Linked DNA regions of Homo sapiens. The protein of the gene in region 2 interacts with the protein of the main gene of each other region in a pairwise test. Each region holds a gene or a part of one and is shown on either strand. Other genes may lie near its edges. The genes, in order: SORBS1 and MAP4K3.

Region 1 (3,821 bases), on a different chromosome or scaffold from region 2:
AGGACCCCGTTTCCAGAGTTGTCAGCTCCTGCTCCAGCCACAGGAGGGGAAAGTGAGGGGGCTGAAGGGGAGGTGTGGGCAGCAGCCCTTTTCACACAAATGCCAGCTCTCAAGGGGGAGCGAGCCCCAGGCCACAGCCTGTGCACACCCATGGAGAAGGGGCTTGTGCCAGGAGGGCAGGAGGAAGGGAGGGGACAGGAAGTGGTACACTTGGGGTCTGGAGGCCCACCAAGAAAGGAACACCAAGTTTCAACAAGCCTGGCTTTCCAATCAACATAATCTTCAGTGTTGCCAGCTACTCCCCTCCTATCCTGCCTTAGGAAGCAGGAAGCGTATACCCCTAACCTTACTCGGAGATCCGGCACCGTGCGCACTTCCTATACACACAGGATCCTGGAATTGGGCCGGGATGATGACTCAACACTGACGATAAGGATGTCCCCGGGTGCCTTGGGTTGACTTAGAATGTTTATAGAATTGTTCCTGTGTCAGAAACGTTTAATTCTTTTCAACTAGCCACTTCACCATCTCTTCTATTCCTTCCTCAACCTGTTCCAGGGCCAGGCAAAGCCTTTGCCAGGTATTACTGCTTTCCTACAGCCCTCCACAGCAGCGGGTGACCCCACATATGGAGCCTTGGCACATGCCAAGCACCGACTTCCATGAATTACCTCACTGAATCCTTATGACTGCCCTACAAGGGATGGACTGCTTCCACTCCTGCTTAGCATGTGAGAGGTTAAGTGGCTTTCTAGCAAAAGGCTAAGCCTGATTTCTTATAAACTGCCCCATGCCGGCTCACCCTCAGTGATCCCCACTCCTGATGTGCTGGCCCACCCATGGGCCCACATGTGCTTGGCTGGAGCTGGAAGTCTGGCCTAGTGTGTCTCAAGCCTCTGTGCTCCTGTGTCCCCCAAGCATGCCTCTATTATTGCCCTGGTGATATTGCTAGGCTCCTCCTTGTTTTGAGGAGCCTTGAACTTAGGGTTCTCAAGAGGAGAGACAAATGACCTTTGTATTCTGCCCAGAGGCTGGTACCTGCAGGCCTTATTCATAGACTGAATAACTACAGCCTCAAAGGGAAACTGAGGTTGCAAGCCTAAGGGTTAAGCACTATTTACTGTGGACATCAGACATACTAGATACTTAATAAATGGCTTGGAGACATCTTCAGGAACTCAATCTGGGTCTAAGGAAGTTCTAAAAATATTCTCAGTTCTAGAAGCAATTCTAGATCACCCAAGATGGTGGCTCTATAGCTTCCGTTTATAAAGTGCTGACCATGTTCCCAGGATCATAAGCCCTTGTAATCAACCACTCTTTGAGGTAGGTGCTATCATCTCCATTTTACAGATGAGGAAACTGAGTCTCAGACAGGGGAAGCAACTCCCAAGTCACTAGACTGTAAGAGGTGGAGCTGGCATTCAAACCTGGTTGCTTCTGAGAAGTTGCCGAAAGTCTTTGACTTTCGCAGTAGTCAACAGCATAGCCAAAATCAGAATTGTGATTTGTTTAGTTGCTAAGTTCATTTCTCCAAAAAAATTTTCAGGTCTCAAAACACCCTAAGGCTACCTTTGTCCAAATGCTCTCTGGGTCTTTGTAGCTGACCCAGAGAGAAGATGGTACACTCACCCCAAAACCTGGCATGGCTATTCGAGGATACCCCATGTCAGTCAGGGCCCCAGGAGACCTGCATTCTCCTCTCCAGAACCAAAACACCTTTGTTTCATAGCAAACAAAGGCCCCGCGCTCCCACACAAACACGAGACAGGACAAAGACCTGACAGAGCCGAGCACTAGCAGAGCACCATGGGTTATGGAAACAAAGTGCATCTTACATAAAAGCAAACCACACCACACCAAAGCCTGGTGTTCTCAGCTGTGTTAGTCAAAGCAAACTGAGGGTCATCTCTAAGGCATACATGGGATGTGAGGAAGGTCTGCCTTCTCAGAGGCCCTTGCAGCAGGCCAGGAGGCATTCAAAGTAGAGATAACTTCCAAATGACCTCAAGTGGCCAGATATAGCCTGTCCTTTCCCTCCAACTGTATCCAGTCCTGGCACCTGAATTCATGTCCTCCCATTCCCTCTGGGGCCATCTCTTTGCTCCTGAGGCAAGCAAATGGTCTCACCAGCATTCACTTGGCCTCCGTAGATGGACCAGGGGCGAGACGTGCAGCCCACCCTGCCAAGTGAGACGCCAAGTGCACACGCGGCATGCTGCAGTCCTACCTGGCTCCCACCTCTCCGAGCAGCTTTCCTCCCCGCCTGCTCGCCACCTCTATGCCGCTCTGTCTGCTCAGCCTCACTTCCTGGAAAAGCGCTACCCAGGGGCTTGCCGGGCCGGCTCTCCTCAGGGGTGTTGAGATCTGAGAGTCTCTGTTCAGTACTCAGGCACCTGACCACGTCTGAAGGCTTCAAGCAGCTCTTCTTAGAGATCTTGGGTCCACCAGGGCCTCTTTCGCCTGCCCCCCTCTCTGCTTTCCTCTCATATTGTCCACTCTCTTCGCGCCATGGCTGCCTCTTGCTCTGGCTGCTAAAGGCATCACTAAGCTGGGAGATGACACTATCAGAGCTCCCCAGCGGCAGCTGCAAGAAGCTATCTTGGTGGATGCCTGAAGATGGCGTGTGGACACCACCGTCTCCATTCATGTGAAGGGAGGCCTGGGAAGTAGGTGCTAGGGAGTAGGTTTTGTGTGGGGAAGGTAGGGCCAGTGGAGAAGCTACTGATCGTGGGGTGGGACGATCTGACCAACTCAAATGGGGGAGGCTGAGAGACAGGGAGGGACTGGCCCTTGGTGACAAGGCGAGGTGGTCAGTGTTATAGATAGAAGCCTCTGGCAGAGGAGGCAAGGGTGGGGTCAGGGCCAGAGAACGCCTGCCTGGGACCCCCACAGTCAGTGAGATCCACTCAGAGGTGACAGCGTGCATCTCGGGGGACAGGGCTCGGCGGGAGTGGGGCAGAGATGAGGGGGCTGGCGTGATGAGCTTGCTGTGACTGGAAAACTTAAAAAGAAGAAAAGAGAGGAAAACAAAAGAAAGAAGCAAAAGGTACAAGTGTCAGCATAAAGGAAAAAGAAGGAAAATAATCACAAGGGGTATATAAAGAGGAATGAAATGGAGAGGATGAGCAAGGACACTCTGGTGTCCAAAAAGGAAATCCTCAGGTTACATCTGGGGAGAAACCAGGATGGGTGAGTGTGCGTTTGAGCATGTGCGAGCGTGATCCTGATGTGTGCAGGCAGGGGGTGGAGGAAGCAGTGAGAGGTGTGGAGATGGGGAGAGGTTCCCGTCAGAGTAGTGACGGATGAGGCCGCCCTGCTTTGCAGAATCAGATTTTCAAAGGGACACATTGGAAGCTCCCCATCCCAGCCAACCCAGCCCCTGTGCATCCAGATCCCTGACCCGGAACCATACGGGGAAAGGTGGCCCCACACTGCCATGGCCCTTCCCTGGGGTTTTATTTTCTCTGGGAGCTCAGCAGAGTCTTCCAGAGAGGAGTATGAGTAGTGTACTAGTTTTGTTTTACAATCACTCTTGGCTAGTCAAGTGAAAAATGTAGTTGAGTTCCCTGCATCCTTACAAAGAAGAATGTCCCACTCCAGTCACACACTCTGTCCTATAAGACAACAGGATGCGGCTATCACTGTCCAGGAAGCCCTGGGTCAGCCCGTTTAATGCTTTCTGCCAAGAACCCTCTACTGGGGTCAGTGATGAGCAGGTGGCAGAGGAGGAAACAATTAGAGGACCAGACAAGAGGCACCATCTCAGGGTCAACCTGGGCCCCCAGGTCCTACTCTTGTTCCTCTGCCAACCTCCTTAC
Region 2 (3,821 bases):
GCTGTCATGAACAAGTAATTTTCTTAGTCTTGTTTTACCTTATTTGGGGAACAAATAGTAATAGAATTTGTGTAATAGATAAAAATGTGAAATATTAAAATGCTGTGTAATGATTTGTTGATTTTTCAGAGCATTATTTCTAATGACAAAAAGCAATTTTCAGCCTCCTAAACTAAAGGATAAAATGAAATGGTAAGTATTTTTATGTTATTTACTTTTATGGTGAGATGAGCAAAAAATGAATTGGAATGTAAAAGTCTAATTTTCTAAATTTCTTAGGTCAAATAGTTTTCATCACTTTGTGAAAATGGCACTTACCAAAAATCCGAAAAAAAGACCTACTGCTGAAAAATTATTACAGGTATTATTTTTGCCCTGAAATATATATATATATTTCAAAAGATAAAATGTTATTCAATCAGATTTATAGTAAGTGTTCTGCATTGTATTTAATTTTTATAGCATCCTTTTGTAACACAACATTTGACACGGTCTTTGGCAATCGAGCTGTTGGATAAAGTAAATAATCCAGATCATTCCACTTACCATGATTTCGATGATGATGATCCTGAGGTAGGAATTGCTTTTACCAGCGGGCATATATAACATGTATATGTGTATGTATATATGTGTGTCTGTATGTACGTCTCAAAATCCATTTTTTTAATTTTGGGGCCTAGTTTAAATAAAAAAGCTCTTGAGGGAACAATTAATTCTTTGTCTTTGCCTTTCATGGAAAGTCAAATGCTAGGTTTTTCTTACTGACTACTTATAGGTGACTATAGTGTGAAAATGGCAAAGGCATATCATTTAATCCACTTGTTGAAATCACTGTAGTTATTTCAAAATAGCCATTTTTGGTGAAGTTGCCAAATAATCATTCACTGTAAAAGGGAAAGCAAATGGGAAGTGCCTAAACAAGACATTTGAATATTCAAAATTTCCCCTCAGTTTGCTTCTCAAAAAGAATCCTCAGTTTGGCCTGGTGGCTCATGTCTGTAATCCCATCACTTTGGGAGGCTGAAGCAAGAGGATTACTTGAGGCCAGGAGTTTGAAACCTGCCTGGTCAACATAGCAAGACCCCGTTTCTATCTTTAAAAAAAAATTCTTATATAATACTTCATAAATTATTAGAGGTTAGTAGGAAGTATAGGCTTGACTTTGCCAGTGACTAAAACTCAGCTATTCACTATGGAAATGTTTTAAAATGAGCCAGTATAGTTGTTAATAAAATAATTCTAATATGACAGAAGCATTGATATTAATGGAAGCTTCACTTCTGTTTGCATATGTAACATTCCTAGCACTGCTAATAGTTGTGGCAACCAAGATAAATTCAGTATATGTGACATGGCAGAATTCTGTTATTGGGTCTGTAACAGAAGTGGATAGGCTTTAACTCTACTGGCTTTATGGGAGGCCCTTAAAAATATTGTAAATTTCATTAATGACTGAAGGTGAAGTGTTTAGAAAGACGGCCACAGATTGTCTTAAGTCAGAGAGAACCTTTCTATCAATTCAGCATTGTCCCAGCTTGCCATCTTATGATAGATAAGCTATTTGTCCTTTTGTTTAAGGGTCTGGAAAAGAGTTTGGAGCTTAAAAATGTAAGGAATGTAAAGTATAATTAATCTTATAATTATACTCTGAAGAAGTTTTTTTTGTTTTGTTTTTGTTTTTTTTTGAGATGAGTCTTACTCTATTACCCAGGCTGGAGTGCAATGGCATGCTCTCAGCTCACTGCAGCCTCTGCCTCCTGGGTTCAAACGATTCTCCTGCCTCAGCCTCCTGAGTAGCTGGGATTACAGGAGCCCACCACCATGCCCAGCTAATTTTTGTATTTTTAGTAGAGATGGGGTTTTACCACATTGGCCAGGTTGGTCTCGAACTCCTGACCTTGTGATCTGCCTGCCTCGGCCTCCCAAATGCTGGGATTACAGGCATGAGCCACCGCACCTGGCCTGAAGAAGTTTTTTGGTGTTGATTTGCTTAATTTTATTTTTAAGAAAGTTAAGTTTTACAAACTCTTCTAGTCTTATTTAGTATACAGGCAGTCCTTGATGTGCATGGTAGTATGGGACTGTAAAAATGACTGCATAAGCTAAAATTCTGCAAAGTAATCTTAATAATCAGGAAAAATTATAATTGTTTCATGACTTTTAAAATTTTTTGTTAAAGCATAAACTCTGTTACTGTCAGTTGTAATTGTAGAAATGTGAAAAAATAGTAAAACTATTATTTACAGTGTATTATAAATATTAGAATCATCGAGAGTTAATGTGTTTCATTTCTTTGTTAATGAACTTTTCATGCACTTTTTTTACTTATCTAGTAGTCTGCTTATTGAGTAGTTTGCCTTTTCATCATGTGTCTGTGACACAGAGCAAGTATCTTTTCTATGCCTTGGCAAATTGTCATATTGCTTTCTAATTTTCTTTCTAATCATGATCATGATGTGCATCTGTTATTTACGTAGTAATTTGTGAACTGAAAGGCTACCAATAAAGTTTATACTTTATGCAATTTCAATTAATATACAGTGGTAACTGTTATTTGAACCATGATGTAGGGAACTAGTGTTATTTAACTAAATTATGGTAACTGAAATTGGTGCATAACAAAGCTGTAAAACAAGGACTGCCTATATCCTTTTCAGTGCACTAAATGCTACATGATTGTTTCTTACCTCACCCTATGTACTTGTCATGTCTTTTTAAAAATGTACTCAAAGAACAGAAATAATAAACCAAATAGAGAAGCAATCTGTGGAATGAAGATTCTTCTAAAACTTTCTCATATAGCAGGGAAAGAAACTCATCTTTCTTATCCAGACATTGTTTTGGTATTATAATTATAAATTGTTACAAATCTCTATGGTAAGTAGGTAAAATAAAGGAATTTAATTATTCCAGGGGTAGGATGAGGGGAAGCTGTTACATTCCCTCTCACAGTAGCTTAGAATAATGTTTTTCTTAAGAGAAATTCATAACTTTTTTATTTGCAAATGATTTGTAATTGTAATTGCTAAGTGCAGTGTTGTCACTCAAAATACGAATGTATCTAAGAATTTCAGCACTTACTGTGATACTAGAACTATTGTATGCATACTCTTAAAAATAAGGGTGGGCTCAGTGGCTTATGCCTGTAATCCCAGCACTCTGGAAGACCGAGGCAGGTGGATCACCTGAGGTCAGGAGTTTGGGACCAGCTTGGCTAACATGGTGAAACCCCGTCTCTACTAAAAATACAAAAATTAGCCGGGCATGGTGGCTCATGCGTGTAATCCCAGCTATTCAGGGGGCTGTGGCAAGAGAATTGCTTGAACCTGGGAGGCAGAGGTTATAGTGAGCCAAGATCATGCGACTGCACTCCAGCCTGGGCAACAGAGCGAGACTCCATCTCAAAAAAAAAAAACAAAAAATAGAAAAAGAAAAATATATATATATGTGTATTTATCTATATATACATATATACACACACACACACACACACACACATATACCACATCTAAGTCTAGTTTAAGTTTTTTATAGGTTATGCACTGTGGAAGAAAGTTTGACTTTTTAATGTTGAGTTCCCCTGTAGTTTCTATTTTAGAAGTAATTACACACTGGTGTAATTCTAATTCTGATTTTTATTCAGTTTTCGTCTCCTATATGTAAGCCCACTTACTATGTACAGCATTATAAGATTTAACAATTTTATTAATCTGTTATGCTAATAAATTAATAATTTATTGTGCTGTTTAAGCCGGGAAGGTAAAACTGTTCTCAGAAATAATCATGAGTTTCATCCATGTTCATTAATAACAGTCTGTATG

Evidence for each region.
Region 1: the proteins of MAP4K3 (region 2) and SORBS1 interact in a two-hybrid assay, tested with the Homo sapiens proteins (one large-scale study listed by BioGRID and IntAct).

What each region holds. Positions count from the first base shown.
Region 1 is NC_000010.11:95,334,291-95,338,111, forward strand, and holds part of SORBS1 (sorbin and SH3 domain-containing protein 1), read right to left. Parts: intron 3,005-3,821; coding exon 2,231-3,004; intron 1-2,230. UniProt on the Homo sapiens protein: Plays a role in tyrosine phosphorylation of CBL by linking CBL to the insulin receptor. Required for insulin-stimulated glucose transport. Involved in formation of actin stress fibers and focal adhesions.
Region 2 is NC_000002.12:39,322,270-39,326,090, reverse strand, and holds part of MAP4K3 (mitogen-activated protein kinase kinase kinase kinase 3), read left to right. Parts: intron 1-129; coding exon 130-192; intron 193-279; coding exon 280-361; intron 362-462; coding exon 463-573; intron 574-3,821. UniProt on the Homo sapiens protein: Serine/threonine kinase that plays a role in the response to environmental stress. Appears to act upstream of the JUN N-terminal pathway.